Linked DNA regions of Homo sapiens: region 2 is linked to region 1. The links come from fine-mapping of genetic effects on plasma protein levels. A gene starts in region 1. The other region holds a variant in brackets. All regions are shown on one strand. Distances are between the middles of the regions.

Region 1 (9,832 bases):
CTCCCAAAGTGCTGGGATTACAGGTGTGAGCCACTGTGCCTGGCCAGGACTTGTCTTTTTCTTTTCTTTTTTTTTTTGAGAAGGAGTCTTGCTCTGTAGCCCAGGCTGGAGTGTGATGGCGTGATATCCGCTCACCGCAACCTCCACCTCCTGCCTTCAAGCGATTATCCTGCCTCAACCTCCCGAGCAGCTAGGATTACAGGTGTGTGCCACCACGCCCAGCTAATTTTTTGTATTTGTAGTAGAGACAGCGTTTCACCATCTTGGCCAAGCTGGTCTCGTGATCCGCCTGCCTCAGCCTCCCAAAGTGCTGGGATTACAGGCGGGAGCCACTGCACCTGGCCCCAGGACTTGTCTTTCTTAAGCACAGAAGTTCTCTGAATGATGCCTAGGACATGGAAAGGACATTTTAATACATTTGCTAATCAAAGCATCATAAATCTTGCTTTTTTTCCCCATAGATAAAACATCTTTCTAAGACTCTGTACCTCTTTCCAGAGTGCTGCACATTTGAGTTAGCTTAATTATAGTGTAGTGACTTTGATCCAAACTTGCTGGTTTAAATCTTGGCTCTTCCAGCCGCTCACTGTGTGACCTTGGGCAAATTAATTAACCTTTCTGTGCCTTAGTTTTCACATGTTAAAGCAGCAGTCATAGTAATAGTATTTATCTTACAGTGTTGTTGGGATGGTGAAATGAGTAAATATTTGTAAATGCCCTGGCACATGGTAGTTGCAATATTAGTGTGCAGTATTGTTTTTATGATTAGAAATAATGTCTTCAAAGTCTCACTTTCCTGCTGGTTTGAATGTGCTGTGAGAACACATACTGTCAGTTTTGCCTACCACAAATTTGTTGAGTCTCTTGCAGGTACCTCCAAATGGGCTTGTAATTCACCATCCCCACTTTTCTTTTTTTTTTCCTTTCTTTTTCTTTTTATTTCTTAATTTCTCCCACAAAGACTGAAAGTGAATCCCCACTTTTCTTTTATCTTTTAAAAATTTTATTTGTGGGCCGGGCACGGTGGCTCCATGCCTGTAATCCCAGCACTTTGGGAGGCCAAGGAGGGTGGATCACAAGCTCAGGAGTTCGAGACCAGCCTGGCCAACATGGTGAAACCTCGTCTCTACTAAAAATACAAAAAATTAGCCGGGCGTGGTGGCGCATGCTTGTAATCCCAGCTACTCGGGAGGTTGAGGCAGGAGAATCACTTGAACACAGGAGGCAGAGGTTGCGGTAAGTGGAGATCGCTCCATTGTTTATTTGCATGTGGACATAAGAAAGGGTTAACATGGCCGACAACTATTTCATGAGCTTTTTGGCTTTATTTGAAAAGTGAAGTGTGTTTGGGGAAGGAGTTGGTTAGGAAAACAGATGCTTCCCTTTTTGACTTACCAAGGAAATGGAGATCCAAAGGAAAGCCTGAAGCACTTTGTGGCTTCCACGGGTTCGTTTCTAGGAAGCTTTTGCTTTACCTGGGGAAACCCCAAGCTCTACAGTGAGAAAGTTGTAAATTAGCCTTTAGGAGACGCTGTTTGTCAAAGTTATCTTAACCCTGGAAAAGGGGAGGGAAAAAGGCAGATAAGCAGTGATGACATCAGCAGGAAACTAGTATCAGGCTACCCAGTCCTGAAGATTCAGTTTTCACTTAAACAACCAGCAAGTCTTGAAGTCTCTTCCCAAGCAAATGGGAGCTTCTTTGGACCTTGGAGCACACAGAGGATTCTACTTTCTTTAAAACTTTGTTTTCAGGCAATTTCCCTGAGAACCGTTTACTTCCAGAAGATTGGTGGAGCTTGATCTGAAGGTATGTAATTAACAACCCTTCTTACTCCAGAGTCTCATGCTTGAATCTTTTCCTTTGCTTCATGGCTTCGTGTTGTAGAAACTTGCAAAAACTTGTCAGCAATGGCACTATTTTTTCTTAGATTTCTTTGTCATGCCTGGGAAAACAAAAGTTAAAAAATCCGGAAGCCTCCAACATAGCCTTTTACCGGGGCAGAAATATGTTAGCTCACAGAGACAAAGTTTGGTAGACTCACTAAAACTAGAGATCAGAATTGTCAAGAAACCACAAGGCAAATGCTAGATGCGGTAGAATAGAAAGGTGTCTCCAATAAACCACTCATTTGACCTCAGGGCTAGTAGCAGGGAAGATCCCCTGGATTATCACATTAAAAATGACATTTTTTTGTTTCTTTTAACACCAAAAGTAATGTGTATGCTCACATATGCATAAAATTTGAGAAATTCAATTGGAAGCCCAGAAGGAAATTTGTATTATCTATAGTTATGTCACCTCGATATAACCACTGTTTGTTATGGAGGTTTTGATTTTTGCTGTGTCTTCCTTCCTTTATTTATTTATTTATTTATTTATTTATTTATCTATTTATTTATTTGAGACGGAGTCTCCCTCTTTCACCCTCCAGCACTCAAGCTGGAGTGCAGTGGCACAATCTTGGCTTACTGCAACTTCCGCCTCCCAGGTTCAAGCAATCCTCCCATCTCAGCTTCCTATGAAGCTGGGACCACAGGCATACACCACCAAGCCCAGCTAATTTTTGTATTTTTTGTAGAGACGGGGTTTCACCGTGTTGCCCAGGCTTGTCCCGAATTCCTGGCCTCACAGTGATCCACCTGCCTCAGTCTCCTGAAGTGCTTCTCTGATTATAATGAAATTTAGTATGTAGAATACCATAGTTTATAGACTAGTCAGATGGAAACATTGACTCATGTAATTTTTATCTTCCTTCGCTGATTTGAGCAACTCTTGTCTAAAATCACCCTTTCCTTCTGAGGTCTAGGAGGTTTTTTTGTTGTTGTTTTGTTTTGTTTTTGAGGCAGGGTCTTGCTCTGTCACCCAGGGTGGAGTGCAGTGGCACAATCATGGCTCACTGGAACCTCCATCCCCGGGGCTCAAATGATCCTTCTGCTTCAGCCCTCTGAGTAGTTGGGACCACAGGCGTGCACCACCATGCCTGGCTAATTTTTGTATTTTTTGTAGAGATGGGGTTTTACCACGTTGCCCAGTCTGGTCTTGAACTCCTGGCCTCAAGTGATCCACCCGCCTTGGCCTCCCAAAGTGCTGGGATTATAGGCGTAAGCCATGACACCCCACCTGTTCCTTCCTTTATAAAGTATTTTCTTGTTTCTAAAAATAGCCAAGTTCTGCATATTGACTACATACCTCAAGTGCTTATAGAATAAATAGTATTACAATGAAAATTTTATCACTGCATTGCTCCTCTGATTATGATGAAATTTAGTATAGAGAATAGCATAGTTTATAAACTGATCAGATGGAAACATTGACTCATGTAATTTGTTTTTTTTTAGTGAAAACAAGTTTATTAGAGAAGTAAAGAAACAAAAGAATGGCTACTCCATAGACAGAGCAGCCGACTCATGTAATTTTTAACTTCCTACACTGATTTGAGCAACTCTTGTCTAAAACCACCCTTTCCTCCTGAGGTCTAGGATATTTTATTTATTTATTTTTCTTTTTGAAACAGGGTCTCACTCTGTCACCCAGGGTGAAGTGCAGTGGCATGATCATGGCTCACTGCAACCTGTGCTCCCCAGGCTCAAATGATCCTTCCATCCTCGGCCTCCTGAGTAGTTGGGACCACAGGCATGTGCCACCATGCCCTGATAATTTTTTGTATTTTTAGTAGAGACCAGGTCTCGCCATGTTGCTCAGGCTTGAGGTCTAGGATTATGCCTTCCCTTTCTGTAAGATAAAGGCCTGCCCTCTTACAGGTAGCAGTCTGAAGTTAAGATGTAACACACATACCTCACGGTACCTTGCTGTCTTTGGGTTGATAGATCATAAGGATAACCCTGCCTCCCCCAGATTGCTTTGTGTCTAAAACTTAAAGCATAGAGCCAAGTGCTATTTCTGCCACGTGCTGGAAATGAATGTAAGGGCTCCAATCAGGCTACCAGGCTTGAGAAAAATTGTGCTGTGTCCCTCCATCTTAACTTTCTCTCTCTGGGAACATTTTGATTTGGGAGAAATCAAGGTGAATTGAATTCCAATATAAGCACCCTCCAAGTTTCCTAAAAAGTAACTTGCAAGTGTTGGGGAAAAGTTTTCTGGGCTGTTGCTTTTTGAAGTAGCCTCGCCGTAATTTTTATTTTTCAGCACTTCTAGGAAAGTCTAATGCCCAGAACGGAGAAGGTTGTGGTGAGGGGAGGGCCTGGGAAGTCAGGGGGCCATATGTCCTCACTCTCTAACTCCCTGCCCCACCTCTCTGTCCCTTTCAGGCTGGCCATGAAATCTCAAGGTCAACATTGGTATTCCAGTTCAGATAAAAACTGTAAAGTGAGCTTTCGTGAGAAGCTTCTGATTATTGATTCAAACCTGGGGGTCCAAGATGTGGAGAACCTCAAGTTTCTCTGCATAGGATTGGTCCCCAACAAGAAGCTGGAGAAGTCCAGCTCAGCCTCAGATGTTTTTGAACATCTCTTGGCAGAGGATCTGCTGAGTGAGGAAGACCCTTTCTTCCTGGCAGAACTCCTCTATATCATACGGCAGAAGAAGCTGCTGCAGCACCTCAACTGTACCAAAGAGGAAGTGGAGCGACTGCTGCCCACCCGACAAAGGGTTTCTCTGTTTAGGTGAGGACGGGTCTGTGGTGGAGATGGGAGGATCTCCCATCTAGTGTTCATTCTGGCCATTGGGCTTTGAAAGGAAGCTGCAGTTAAGATCTTTTGGTTATCTACCTCCTTGGATGATAAACCAGGAGATTCTAAACCTCCTTCTCAGCCTCTGATGCTAATGAGATAAGAGTTGGGAGGTCAGCAAAGCTTCAAGACCAAGCCCTGGGCCCAGAGGTGGCTTCCCTTTGTTTTGCTTCTCACTAGCAGTGAAGCCCACCTCAGTGTGGCAGAGCCCGTGTTTTCCCTGCTTACCAGCGGCTACACGTGCAGATCTTCTCCCTCCTGGGATCCACTAGTCTGTCTACCTGTTTCCCGGGGTCTTGAGAAGAGAGTAATGCATACTTGGAGTGAAATAAGCAAGATGAAAAAAGAGATGTGTTTCTGGGGTAGGGAGGGATGTCATTTATGCCATGTCTAGTTATAGAAATTTCTATATTTTTGGGTGGGAATCCAGAAAGGTAAAAACAGGCATTTTGCCCAAAGAGGTAAAATTTAGGCATTGGTCTTATCATGGATGACAGCGTTTTATTTTTATTTTGAGACAGAGTCTCGCTCTGTCACTCAGGCTGGAGTGAAGTGGCACCATCTCAGCTCACTGCAACCTCCGCTTCCTGGGTTCGAGCGATTCTCCTGCCTCAGCCTCCTGAGTAGCTGGGACTACAGGCACCCACCACCACACCTGGCTAATTTTTGTATTTTTAGTAGAGACAGGGTTTCCAACATGTTGGCCAGGCTGGTCTGGAACTCCTAGCCTCAAGTGATCCACGCACCTCGGCCTCCCAAAGTGCTGGGATTATAGGTGTGAGCCACTGTGCCAGGCTGATGACAGTGTTTAAAATTGTTCACTGACATAGTGTCCACATCAGAGAACCTCACGAAGAGGAGCCTTTGGAGGGTGTTTTATGGTCTCTGCGATTAGAACACATTAAGCCTTAGCGGTGGAACTGGCTTCCAGAACCTGAGTTGCCCTTGAGTCAGTGGAAGGAATGATGAATTCCAGAAATCCATATTTCCATTCTGCTGGCTAAACATCTGAGGGACAGTCTCTGACACATAGGGGTGTTAGTATGTGGATGAAATCCTCACTGTTTCTGGTTGTGGATTATATCTCGAAGCTGGGGTAGTTTTCTTCCCTTTTCAATATACAACCGACTGTACCTTGGCTGGCCTGGGGTCCTATCTACCAAGGGCCTGTAAAGTAAGCCTGAATTTCTTGATGGAATCAGGAGATGGGAAGGCATGTCAGAATTGTGTTTTATGCCTTTTTTTTTTTAAATATGCCTTCTTAGTGTGGTGAAAAACAGCATTAGACTTGGAGTCAGAAGGCCTGCTTCTACCACTTACTGTGTTATCTTTATTTAAACAAGTCACTTAGAAACTGAAAGTTTTCATTTTTTGAACCTATAAATGGGATTAATAATTGTCTACACATAGAGTTGATCATTCAAATGACAGAAAACATTTATGAAAGCACTTGATTGATTATGGTGTCCTCCACAAGTGTAAGGCTTTATTTGTCATTTTGGGTGTGTGTCTTAGAAACCTGCTCTACGAACTGTCAGAAGGCATTGACTCAGAGAACTTAAAGGACATGATCTTCCTTCTGAAAGACTCGCTTCCCAAAACTGAAATGGTGAGTGGGTCATACAGAATGGGTCTGTGTGAGCACTGTCTTAATCAATGATTAGAAAGATGCTGGAAAGGGTTTTTAGGGAGATTTATTTTTTATGGGAGACAGTATCATACAATGGTTACGAACATTGGCTTTGGTGCTGGATGAGCCTAGATTCTGGTCCTGATTCTAATTCTAAACCCATGCTGTGAGGCCAATGATTGAACTTTTCTGAGTCTCTATTTTCTTAGACGTAAAATTGTGGGCAATCGTATGACTTCCTTCTAGGATTGTTGGGAGAATTAGCTGGAATAATGTTCATGAAGCATTAGCATGAGGCCAATATTTGGTATAGCATTCAGTAAATGCTCACTTCTGTTGGAATCTGTTGTGTTTTGTTTTTGTTTTTGTTTTTTTTTGAGACGAAGTCTTGCCTTGTTGCCCAGGCTGGAGTGCAGTGGCATGATCTCAGCTCACTGCAACCTCCACCTCCTGGGTTCAAGCCATTCTCCTACCTCAGCCTCCCTAGTAGCTGGGATTACAGGCATGCACCACCATGCCCAGCTAATTTTTGTATTTTTAGTACAGACAGGGTTTCACCCTGTTGGGCAGGCTGGTCTAGAACTCCTGACTTCAAGTGATCTGCCTGCCTTGGCCTCCCAAAGTGTTGGGATTACAGGTGTGAGTCACCGCACCTGGCCTTGTCCAGTTTTTTCTTTCAAGTGCCTTTTAATCTGTAGGTTAGATTTCCTCCCTGCCCCCAAATCTCTTTCTTTTTCTTAAAATGTATCTGTTGAAGAATCTCTGGGCGGTTGGCCTGTGGAGTTTCTCACAGGCTGAGTTTTGCTGATTGCACACTCGTGGTGCAGTTTGGCATGTTCCTCTGTCCTCTGCATTTCCTGCAGACTGGCAGCTGAATCCAGAGGCTTCATCAGACTCAGGTCAGATCCGTTTGGCAAGACTATAGGTAGTCTTGTTTTTTCATCAGGAGGTACCTGATTTTCTCTCTCTTTTTCTTTGATATTAGCAACTGTTGATGTTCAACCATTTTATATATTGAATTTTGAGGGGTTGCAAAAATGGAGATATTAGAATTTTTTTTTTTTTTTGAGATGGAGTCTCACTCTTGTCACCCAGGCTGAAGTGCAATGGCACAATTTCAGCTCACTACAACCTCTGCCTCCTGGGTTCAAGCGATTCTCCTGCCTCAGCCTCCTGAGTAGCTGGGATTACAGCAGCCTGCCACTACGCCTGGCTAACTTTTTGTATTTTTAGTAGAGATAGGGTTTCACCATATTGGCTAGGCTGGTCTGGAACTCCTGACTTTAGGTGATCCACCCGTCTCGGCCTCCCAAAGTGCTGAGATTACAAGTGTGAGCCACCATACCCGGCCACATATTAGAATTGTATCATTTCGTTTTCCCTTCATCCATTATTTGGTTACCCAGTGATACAGCTTATATGTGAATCCTTGATTCTTTTCTTTCAGTTATTTTTTTTTTTTTTTTGAGACGGTGTCTCACTTGGTCATCCAGGCTGGAGTTCAGTGGTGTGATCTTGGCTCACTGCAACCTCTGCCTCCCAGGTTCAGGTGATTCTCCTGCCTCAGCCTCCTGAATATCTGGGATTACAAGCAGGCACCACCATGCCTGTCTAATTTTTGTATTTTTAGTAGAGACAGGGTTTCATTTGGCCAGGTTGGTCTCAAATTCTTGACCTCAAGTGATCTACCTGCCTCAGCCTCCCAAAGTTCTGGGGATTACAGGCATGAACCACTGTGCTTTGCCTAGTTATCCAGTTTTTAAGTTAATTGGTATCTTATCATTCTCTGAAGGTGACCCATTACAAAATATATATAAATTTAAACTCATGGATTTAAACATATGTGAGGTATTTCAATCTACTGCAATTATTATCCTTACTGAAGTTCAAACTGAGGCTGGGCATGGTGGCTCATGCCTGTAATCCCAGCACTTTGGGAGTCTGAGGTGGACAGGTCACTTGAGCCTCAGGAGTTTGAGACTAGACTGGGCAACATGACAAAACCCGGTCTCTACAAAAAATACAAAAATTAGCTGGGTGTGGTGGCGTGCACCTGTAGTCCCAGCTCCTCAGGAGGCTGACATGGGAGGATCGCTCGAGCCCAGAGAAGTCAAGGCTGCAGTGAGCAATGGCTGTGCCATTGCACTCCAGCCTGGGTAACAGAGTGAGACCCTGTCTCAAAAAAATAGTTCAATTGTCCCATTTTTTCCCAGGGGATACATCTTCAGTTTGGTTCCTAAGTCATTTTGACATGACCTTAGTAGTCTTTGATGGCTTCTTTACTATCTGGCAAAAATATCCCAGGTTCATCTTGTATATTTTCTACCCAGTCCTGGAATCTCTCATTTCTCCCAAAAATCCTGACTTCTTTTAATGAGAGATGTCATTTCAAGACCACAAACTCGATGCTGGCATGCTCATTGCTTTTGAGTAAATATATATGCACACACTACGTATATACACATATGTATACACACACACACACACATGCACACACACACATGACCTAAAGGTTCAGTAATTCTTGGAGAATTTTAAAAATCAGGCGATTTTGTTTTAGGGAATTCTTTTTTATAAAACATTGTAAGGATCTTCTGCTTTTGCCGTAAAATTTCAGTGCCCACATTTGCAGTGGTACAAAGCAATTACCTGCTCAAATGGTAGCATTATACCTTAAATACAGAATTTCTCAAAGTCAGAGGAGATTCCTGTAGTTTGACAAGCGCTCCAGGTGGTTTTCATAACATTCTCTCCCAAGTTGGGGCATCCGCTCACAAATTTTCCAGTGTCTAGGTTTATACATAAAATGAGACCACTTTTTATTGTTATACCCCGTCCTATGTTAGGGACTCTCTGAACAATATGAGGTGGCGGGTGAGGGACGAGAGAAAGGTCATTTGTTAAAGCAATCTCTGATATTCGAAACACTGAGTGTTAGTTTTCAAACAAGAAAAGCTGGAAAATGTTTTTTTTTCTCTTTTGCTTGCACAGGTTCTAGAACTCTACTTGAAGGCATCTGTGGCTACAGAATTATTATTATTATTATTATTATTATTTTTAGACAGAGTTTCACTCTTGTTGCCCAGTCTGGAGTGCAATGGTGCCATCTCGGCTCACTGCAACCTCTGCCTCCTGGGTTCAAGTGATCCTCCTGCCTCAGCCTCCTGAGTAGCTGGGATTACAGGCGCCCACCACCACACCCAGCTAATTTTTGTATTTTTAGTAGAGGTGGGGTTTCACCATGTTGGCCAGGCTGGTCTTGAACTCCTGACCTCAGGTGATCCACCTGCCTCAGCCTCCCAAAGTGTTGGGATTACAGGTATGAGCCACTGTGCCTGCCCAGAATTATTTTTATGGTCAGAAGCATTCCAAACATTTCCCCCCTACTAAAATAGCTTTTAAATGATCAAATGCACATGTTCATGTGGCCAAATGATCTTGTTTTTCTCAGTATAACAGTAAAAGGAAACGTAACTGTGCTTAGCTGTGGCATGGAATTGTGATATTACCAGG
Region 2 (9,832 bases), 28 kb after region 1:
CGGGAGATCATGTCTCACTTCACAGCCCTGCAGTGCCCTAGACTGGCTGAAAAACCTAAACTCTTTTTCATCCAGGCCTGCCAAGGTGAAGAGATACAGCCTTCCGTATCCATCGAAGCAGATGCTCTGAACCCTGAGCAGGCACCCACTTCCCTGCAGGACAGTATTCCTGCCGAGGCTGACTTCCTACTTGGTCTGGCCACTGTCCCAGGCT[A/G]TGTATCCTTTCGGCATGTGGAGGAAGGCAGCTGGTATATTCAGTCTCTGTGTAATCATCTGAAGAAATTGGTCCCAAGGTGAGAGCTCTTTTTTTTCTTCCATTTGTAATTAATTAGTTTTATTTATTTTTTATTTTACTCTCATTCAACACCTTTGGTAAGGGTGAGAGTTCTACGTTGTTCTATCCATGTACCTGTTCAACCATCTGCCTACCCTCCTGTTTATCTATTTATCCATCTATCCACCCATTCATCTATCCATCCATCTATCCACCCATTCATCTATCCATCCATCCATCTGTCCATCCATCCATCCATCCAGCAACCTTGTATTGAGTACCAGCCTGGACCTGGAAAGGAAGATACAGAGTTAAAAAAAGACAGAGTCCTTGCCCTCAGGTTGCTTACAAGCTAGAGGGATAGACAAACAAATAGACGGGGAAGGGCATCCCCAGCTGGTAAGTGCACATTGTGAAGTATAGGTGTTATGGGAACATGCAGAATGAGTACCTTGCCCAGATTTGAAGGATCAGAGGAGGCTTCTAGAAATGACAAATAGATGTTAGGTAAAGAATCAGGTGAAAGATGTGCTGGGCAGAGGGAATAGCATGAACAAAAGCATGGGGGCCTTTTATTTGTTCGTTTATTTATCACTCACTCTTACGTCCTGAGCACCTATGTGCTATCTTTGGACTTCTATTTGCCACTGCTCTGACAGCTTCCCTTCTGTCTCTGCCACATGCTGTCCTCTTGGCACCTTTAGCCATACCTAGAGGCCATGGGCTCCTCCATGAAAACGTCTCCAAAGTTGCCATCTCTGGCCCACTCATCTCTGAATTCCTGGGGGCAGAGACCCTGTTTCATTCAACTTTATATCCTCAGCCCCTGACCTGATATATTGTGAGCTTGTTAAACATTTGCTGGGCCAATGAATGACTTGCTTGAGCCTGTCTCATTAACATCCCGCTAGATATCCTACCTCTGTTTAGCCCTTGGACCTCACATTCAGCATGCATGTTTCTGAGCTCATCTTCCCAGCTCTCTCCAGGAGCTCCTACTCCTGAATTTCCATTTGAAGGAATGGCCATAGTGCTCTTCTGGGAATTCAGGATTGGAACCTTGAGTCAACTTTGCTTTTCTCTCTTCTTTACCAGCCCCTCCATTCTCATCACAGACATCAGAGGCTAATGTCTATGGCTTCAGGAACAAGGCAATATTTATTGAGAGCGTACTATGTGCTTACTGTACTGGGTACCGAACTGGGGACAGGGGGTGCAACTGTGTACAAGAGAGACAAAATCTGCTCTCCAGGGAGCTAAAAGTCCAGTGAAGGAAGGACAGATAATAAAAATATAAGTGAATATTTAAATTATTATTATTTTAAAAATTCAACAATATTAAAAGGAGACAGTATACATGCATGATTAAGCAATGTGTGGTTTTTTTTGGTACTCCAGAAATTTCTGTTATTTTTAATTGATACTTCATAACTACATATTTCAGGGTTATAATTTGATGTTTCAATACATATATGTGTTGTATAATGATCAAATCAGGGTAGTTAGTGTATCCATCACCTCATGCATTTATCATTTCTTTGTGGTGAGAACCTCTAAAAGCCTCTCTTGTAGCTATTTTGTAATATACAACACCTTACTGATTGATCGATTGATTTAAATATGGGATCTCACCATGTTGCCGAGGCTGGCCTTGAACTCCTAGGCTCAAGCAATCTTCCTGCCTTAGCCTTGTAAGTAGCTAGGATTATATGCTCAAACCACAGTGCCCAGCTCAGAATGCCTTACTGTTAACCATAGTCACCCCACTGTGCAGCAGAACACCAGAGGTTATTTCTCCTATCTAATTGTAACTTTGTACCCATTGACTAACCTCTCATCTTCCCTTCCCTCCTTCTCTCTCTCATCTTTGTAATTGCTGTTCTAATCACTGCTTCTATGACATCAACTTTTTAAACAAAGATTCCACATGAGTGAGAACAAGCAGATTTTTTCTGTGTCTTGCTTATTTCACTCTGGGCTCATTCATGTTGTCAGACATGTCAGGATTTTCTTTTTTTATGGCTGAATGGTATTCTGTCACGTATAAATATCACATTTTCTTTATCCATATATCCATTTTTGGACCCTTAGGTTGATTCCATATCTTGGCTATTGTAAATAATGCTGCAGTAAACTGGGAGTGCAGATATCTCTCTGACATATTGATTGCATTTTCTTTGTTTATATACTTAGTATGGGGATTGCTGGATCATATAGTATTTTTATTTTTCATTTTATGAGGAACTGGCATACTATTTTCCATAATGGCTGTACTAATTTTCAATACCACCAACAGTGTGTAAGTGTTCCCTTTTCTCCAGATCTTTGCCAATATGTGTTTTCTTTTGTTTCCTCGATAATAGCCATTCTAACTTGAGTGAAGTAGCATCTCACTGTGGGTTTTTTATTTTTATTTTTATTTTTTTTTAGACAACATCTTGCTCTGTCAGGCTGGAGTGCAGTGGCGCAATCTCAGCTCACTGCAGCCTCTGCCTCCTAGGTTCAAGCAATTCTTCTGCCTCAGTCTCCCGAGTAGCTGGGATCACAGGCATGTGCCACCACGCCTGGCTAATTTTTGTATTTTTAGTAGAGACAGGGTTTTACCACGTTGGCCAGGCTGGTCTGGAACTCCTGATCTCAAGTGATCCACCCACCTCAGCCTCCCAAAGTGCTGGTATTACAGGCGTGAGCCACGGCGCCCAGCTGTCACTGTGGTTTTGATTTGCATTTCCGTGATGATTAGTGATGTTGAGGGGTGGAAGCGGGTAAGTAGGAAAACTCCCACCACAACTATAGTGCTAGAGTGAAGTAGGGCTGAGACTGGGGTTGGGCCTTCCAAGGCGGAAGGAAGTCAGGGGTGGAGGCCAAGTTGGGCTGATTTTCCTGCTGCTGCTAAGAGAAAACCAATTAATGGAAGAAGGTTGGGGGTAGGGTTAAGGATAAGTATTTGTTGAGGCTCTCATGTATTGGATGATGAGAGGAATCATGCTATAGCTAAAATAAAGCCAATGTCACCAATGCGATTGTATAGAATTGCTTGGAGGGCTGCTGTGTTAGCATCTGCTTGGCCATGTCATCAGCCAATTAGTAGAAAAGATATAATTCCTACACCCTCTCATCTGATAAAGAGTTGGAAAATGTTGTTGGCAGTAACTAGAATTAATATTGTGGTGAGGAAAATAAGTAGGTATTTGAAAAACTGATTAATGTTCAGATCTGCCTTCATATATCATATTGAGAATTCTATAATAGATCAAGTGATAAATAGTGCTACTAGAATAAACATTATGGAGAATTAGTCTAGTTTGAAGCTTAATGAGAGTTTTAGGGTTTGGATTGTTATTCAATATCAGTTTGAGATGATGGTTTCTTGGTCTGTACACATAAATGTTGTGGGAATGAGGCTAATGGTGAAAGTGCATGCGACAGCTATTTTTACATAGTATGGATATGAGTTCTTTTTGTGAGGGTTGATAAAGGTAATAATAATTGGTAAGGTTAAGGAGATTAAGGTTATTATAGTAATGGAAAAATACATGATTATTACTTTTATTTGGAGTTGCACCAATATTTTTGGTTCCTAAGACCAATGGATAACTCTCATCCTCTAAAAGTTGAGAAAACTATGTTGTTAGGCATGGAGGCATGAGTTAGCAGTTCTTGCAAACTTTATCGGTAAATAAGAAGTTGCGGACTTCTATTATTAGACCACAATCTAACATTTTGATTAAACTATATTTACAAGGTATAAGTCCTATAATAATTTTAGGATTTAGAGATAGTAAGAGAATTGGTGAAAGGTGTATGAGTATTAGTATGTTTTCTCGTGTAAAGGAAGGTTTAATGCTGTTAATATAGTATGTTAGTGTTCCTTGTTGTGTTGTGACAAGTATATAGAGGGAATAAAGGGCTGTGATTAATATATTAAGTCCTATAAGCATGATGGTAGTGTTTGATCAGGAGAATGAAGCCGTTGTTACAAGGAGTTCTCCTACTAGATTAATAGTGGGGGGTAGGGCAAGGTTGGTGAGATTTGCTGTAAGTCATCAAAAGGTTACTAGTGGAAGTAATGTTTGACGTCCTCGAGAGAGTAATATGATTCAGCTGTGGATTCACTTGTAGTTTGAATTTGCTAGGCAGAATAGTAGGGACGAAGTAAGTCCATGGGGAATTATGAGGATAATTGCACTGGTAAAACTTCAGGGGGTTTGAATGAGGATAGCCACAGTAACAAGTACCATGTGGCTTACGGAGGAATGTGCAATAAGTGACTTTAGATCAGTTTGTCGTAGACAGATGGAGCTTGTCATAATATGCCTCATAAGGATAATATCAGGAAAGGATAGGCTATATGTTCTGTCAGAGGGCTGAGGATGAGGGTAAGTCGCATTTTGTGTAGCCGCCCAATTTTAGGAGCACTGCTGCAAGTACTATTGAGCCAGCCTTAGGTGCTTATACATGGGCTTTGGGAAGTCATAGGTGAAGTCAGTATAGGGGTATTTTTACTATGAAGGCCATTATACATGCCAATCACATGAGATTGTTGGATCAGGAGATTGGTAGTTCTTGATATTAAATGTTATTATTATCATGCTCAGTGAGCCTAGGATATTTTGGGCATAAATAAGTGTAATAAGTAGGGGGAGGGATCCCACTAGTGTGTAAAATAAGAGATATGTACCTGCATTGAGGCGTTCTGGTTGGTTACCCCATCGGGTGATAATAATTAAGATAGGGATAAGTGTAGCTTCAAAGAGAATATAAAATATAATTAGTTCTGTGGCTGTAAATGCTATGATTAGAAAAATTTGTAGGGAAATTAATATGGAAATACAGGGTTTTTTCCATAGGGGTGATTCACTGGAGAGGTGGTACTGGCTTGCTATAGTTATAAGAGGTAGTAGTCAGGCTGTTAAGATTAGAAGGGGTGATGTTAGCGGATCAGAGGAGAAAGTTAATGAGAAGTTGAATAGATTGTCGTTGAATTAGTTAAAGAATAATAGGGCAATGAAGCTGGTGATTAGGCTGTGGGTAGCCATATTGATTCAAATTGTATAATTTTTAGAGAGTCATGTTATTGGTAGTAGTATAATTGTAGGAATAGTTATTTTTAGCATTGAAGTAAATTTAGGTTATGTATGTAGTCTAAGCCATATATGTTGGAAATTGAAAGTAGCAAAGCAAGGCCTACCCTGGCTTTGCAGGCAGCAAATACTGGTAGAGTAATGGGTATTACATTTGCTAGGGTGAAGTGTATATTTAAAGCTATAAGGGTATTTACTATGAATAATGATAATATTATTCCTTCTAGGCATAGGAGGGATGATATTAGGTGGGACTGATAGACTAATACCCCCAGAAGTGATATGATAAATGCTAATATGATACTTATGTAAATAGAGGGCATTTGGTAAGTATGTTCTATCATAATCTAATGAAATCATTTATTTTGCCTTAAACTACTTATTTTTTTCTTATACCTGTGGACCATTTGTATGTCTTCTTTTGAGAAATGTCTGTTAAAGTCTTTTGCCCATTTTTAAATGGGGTTATTTGTTTTTTTGCTGTTGAGTTATTTAAGTTCCTTATGTATTCTAAATATTAACTCCTTGTGAGATGTATAATTTGCAAATTTTTTTCCTATTTTGTAGGTTGTCTCTTCCCTCGGTTTTTTTTTTTTTTTTTTTTTTTTTGCCGTGCAAAAGGGTTTTAATTTGATGTAAACTCATTTGTCTATTTTTGCTTTTGTTGTCTGTGCTTTTGAAGTCTTGTTTTAAAAATCCTTGCCCAACCCAATGTCATGATATGTTTGCCCTGTTTTCTTGCAGCAGCTTCATAGTTTCAGGTTTTACATTTAAGTCTTACACATTTTGAGTTGGTTTTTGTTTATGGTGAGAGGTAAGTGGTTAGTCTCATTTTTCTGTGTATGGATATTCAATTTTCCCAGCACCGTTTTTTGAAGAGATTCTCTTTTACCTATTGTGTGTTCTGGGCACCTTTGTCAAAAATCAGTTGGCTGTAGGTGTGTGAATTTATTTCTGGGATCTATATTCTGTTCTATTGATCTATGTGTCTGTTTTTATACCACTACCATGCTGTTTTGGTAACTCTAGATTTGTAGTATATTTTGAAGTCAGGTGGTGGGATGCCTCCAGTTTTGTTCTTTTTGCTCAGCATTGCTTTCACTATTTGGGGTCTTTTGTGGTTCCATATACATTTTAGGGTTTTTTTCCCTATTTATGTGAAGAATGTAATTTTTTTGTTTGTTTTTGTTTTGTTTTGTTTTAGAGATGGGGTCTTGTTATGTTGTCCAGGCTAGACTTGAACTCCTGGGCTCAAGCAATCCTCCCACCTCAGACTCCTGAGTAGCTAGGACTACAGGCATTTGCCACTGCACTTGGCTTGTCACTGGTATTTTGATAGGGACTGCATTAAATCTGTAGGTCACCTTGGGTAGTATGGTCATTTTAACAAGATTATTCTTCTAACCCATGAACACGAGATATCTTTCCATTTATTTGTGTCCTCTTCACTTTCTTTCATCAATGTTTTATAGTTTTCAGTGTTTAATATTTAAGTTAATGATATTTTAATTGTTTAATATTTATTTAATAATTTTATTATTCAATTATTATTTAATATTAATTTAAATAATATTTAAATTAATAAGAAAAAATTAGCCAGGTGTGGTGGCATGCACCTGTAGTCCTAGCTATTAGGGAGTCTGAAGTGGGAGGATTGCTTAAGCCCAGAAGTTTGAGGCTGTAGTGAACTACAATCGCATTACCGCATTCTAGCCTGGGCAACAGAGCGAGATCCTGTCTCTAACAAAAAGAGGCAATTTCAGGAAGTGATCCCTGCCATGAACAAATCAAAACAGGATAATGGTAGTTTCTTGGTGGAGGTAATATTTCAGGTGAGACTAAATGATAAGAAGGAAACAGACACAGGAAGATTTGGGAATAGAGAGCAGGTGCAAAGCAAGATGCAGGGATTGAGAGCAGGTAAGGGCCTGCATCCCTTCCCTGAAAAATAGTGATAGTTAAGGATGAGGGGATGAGAGTAGTCATACTAATACTAAAAATGATGGTCAGCAGAACAGTGTAGCCAGTGTTCTAAGTGCTTGACCCAATATACATCCTTTAATGCTCTCGGCAACCCCTAAGATGGGGACTGTTATGGTTCCTATTTTAGAGCTGGGAAAACCGAGGCATGGAGCAGTGAGTAACCAGCCTAAGAGCACACAATGAATGAATGATGGAGCCACAATTTAAAATTGAATGTGTTTTCAGAACCTGTGCTTGCTTCCAGTGATATGTATTGCCTACCCTGAGAACGTTCTGCTAAATGCTATATGTCCTGCAAGCCCAGGCTCAAATGCTACCATCTGCATGAAGCCTTCTCTCTCCCTCCCAACCAGAAATGCATTCTCCTCTGAACTTGCAGTGGAACCTTGACCTTTCATTTGGTGTTGACCACATTCTGCCTTGTGTTATGAATATTGTGTATATGCCATCCTCGGTAAATGTTTCATATCTGCATTCTAAGTGGTTAACTTCAGGAATTGTGTCATGTCTATCTTTGTATCTCTCCCAAGACTACAGATAGAGAGGGCATTGTTGGTATCTGTGGCATCTGCTGCATATTTGTTGATCTAAGACCTGGTACATGGTACCTGGTGTCTTTTCTAAGACCTGGTGTGTGGTTTCTACCTCCTGACTGAAAAAAGTTTCTTCTCTGGGCCAGGCACAGTGGCTCATGCCTGTAATCCCAGCACTTTGGGAGGCCGAGGTGGGTGGATCACCTGAGGTCAGGGGTTCGAGACCAGCCTGGGCAAGCAATATGGTGAAACCCCATCTTTACTAATTAGCCAATTGTGGTGGCAGGCACCTGTAATCCCAGCTACTCGGGAGGCTGAGGCATGAGAATCACTTGAATCCAGGAGGTGGAGGCTGCAGTGAGCTGAGATCACACCACTGCACTCCAGCCTGGGCGACAGAGTGAGACTCCGTAAAAAAAAATTTTGTTTTCTTCTTTGTTGCAGACATGAAGACATCTTATCCATCCTCACTGCTGTCAACGATGATGTGAGTCGAAGAGTGGACAAACAGGGAACAAAGAAACAGATGCCCCAGCCTGCTTTCACACTAAGGAAAAAACTAGTATTCCCTGTGCCCCTGGATGCACTTTCATTATAGCAGAGAGTTTTTGTTGGTTCTTAGACCTCAAACGAATCATTGGCTATAACCTCCAGCCTCCTGCCCAGCACAGGAATCGGTGGTCTCCACCTGTCATTCTAGAAACAGGAAACACCGTGTTTTCTGACACAGTCAATTCTGATTTTCTTTTTCTTTTGCAAGTCTAAATGTTAGAAAACTTTCTTTTTTTTGGAGATAGTCTCATTCTGTCACCCAGACTGGAGTGCAGGGGGGCAATCACGGCTCACTGTAGTCTCGACCTCCCAGGCTCAAGCTGTCCTCCCGCCTCAGCTTCCCAAGTAGCTGGGACCACAGGTGTGTACCACCGTGCCCGGATTTTTTTTATTCTTTATTTTTTGTAGAGATGGAGGGATCTCACTTTGTTGCACAGGCTGGTTTCAAACTCCTAGGCCCAAGTGATCCTCCCACCTCTGTCCCCAAAATACTGGGATTATAGGCACGAGCCACCACACCTGGCCAGAAAACTTTCATTATTGAAGACTTGGATTGTAGCCTTGGTTTTGGATGTCTATTCTGAAGACAGAGTAATTGGCTTTGGTTTGTGCAGGTACTTTTTCTTTGAGACAGAGTCACTCCGTCACCTGGGCTGGAGTGCAGTGGTGGGATCACTGTTCACTGCAGCCTTGACCTCCCAGGTTCAAGCGATCCTCCCACCTCAGCCTCCCAAGTAGCTGAGACTACAGGTGTGTGTCCATGCACAGCTAACTTTTTATTTTTTTTGTGGAGATGGGGTTTCACTATGTTGCCTAAGCTGGTCTCAAACTCCTGGGCTCAAGCGATCCTCCCACCTCAGCTTCTCAAAGTTCTGGGACTACAGGCATGAAATACTGTGCCTGGCCTGGGGACCAGGTGCATTTTAAGGTTCCTTGGTGTTCAAAAACCACGTTCTTAGCCTAGATTGAGCTTAGATTGCCTCTCTAGACAACTACCCCTTAGTTATAATTCTGTGTCCCCTCTGCATGCCCTTAAACATTGGACAGTGAGGTCACAGTCCACCCACCCTCTCTCTGATCTCCCCCTTCCTAAGACTTCTCTTTTGCACATCTAGTGAGGTGAAAATTTGGTCTATGCCAGGCCCATTTCCTGCTTTTGTGTAAGGAAGGTGCTCACATAGGAAGTTTTTATTTGGTTAGAGACAGGTTTCCCTGTAGGAAGATGATGGCTCATTTACACTCAGCTGCTCTGCAAGCAGAAACTTTACAACCTGATGTCATATTCCATTTTGGACTGGGTGCGGTGACTCATGCCTGTAATCCCAGTACTCTGGGAAGCCAAGGCAGGCAGATCACTTGAGGTCAGGAGTTCGAGACCAGCCTGGCCAATACGGCAAAACCTCATC

Direction of the effects. Positions count from the first base shown, and alleles are read on the strand shown. Strength reflects both the effect of a copy and how common the allele is.
As copies of A replace G in region 2, the plasma level of the protein whose gene starts at base 1,640 in region 1 goes down (weak association).

The links. A credible set is the group of variants that fine-mapping cannot tell apart. PIP is the chance, under the fine-mapping model, that this variant and not a neighbour inherited with it causes the effect. Protein levels are from antibody-based Olink assays in UK Biobank. Linkage for the fine-mapping came from a reference panel and not from the study's own genotypes, which makes the PIPs less certain.
Region 2: its variant is the best candidate, but not a certain one, in a credible set for the plasma level of the CASP10 protein (UK Biobank, PIP 0.63). The variant lies in the coding sequence of CASP10. If it changes the protein, the assay may bind it differently, which can mimic a change of level.

What each region holds. Positions count from the first base shown.
Region 1 is chr2:201,181,502-201,191,333 of GRCh38, forward strand. It overlaps CASP10 (caspase 10), which reads left to right and starts at 1,640. Exons shown (of 10, transcript NM_032977.4): 1 at 1,640-1,807; 2 at 4,270-4,623; 3 at 6,205-6,298. The coding sequence starts at 4,277.
Region 2 is chr2:201,209,270-201,219,101 of GRCh38, forward strand. CASP10 (caspase 10) reads left to right here. Exons shown (of 10, transcript NM_032977.4): 9 at 1-293; 10 at 8,319-9,832. The coding sequence ends at 8,472. It also overlaps the pseudogene MTND5P25, the pseudogene MTND4P23 and the pseudogene MTND4LP13. Among named protein-coding and RNA genes, the nearest start is that of CASP10, 31 kb to the left of the region's middle. The variant A/G (reference allele first, on the strand shown) is at 215.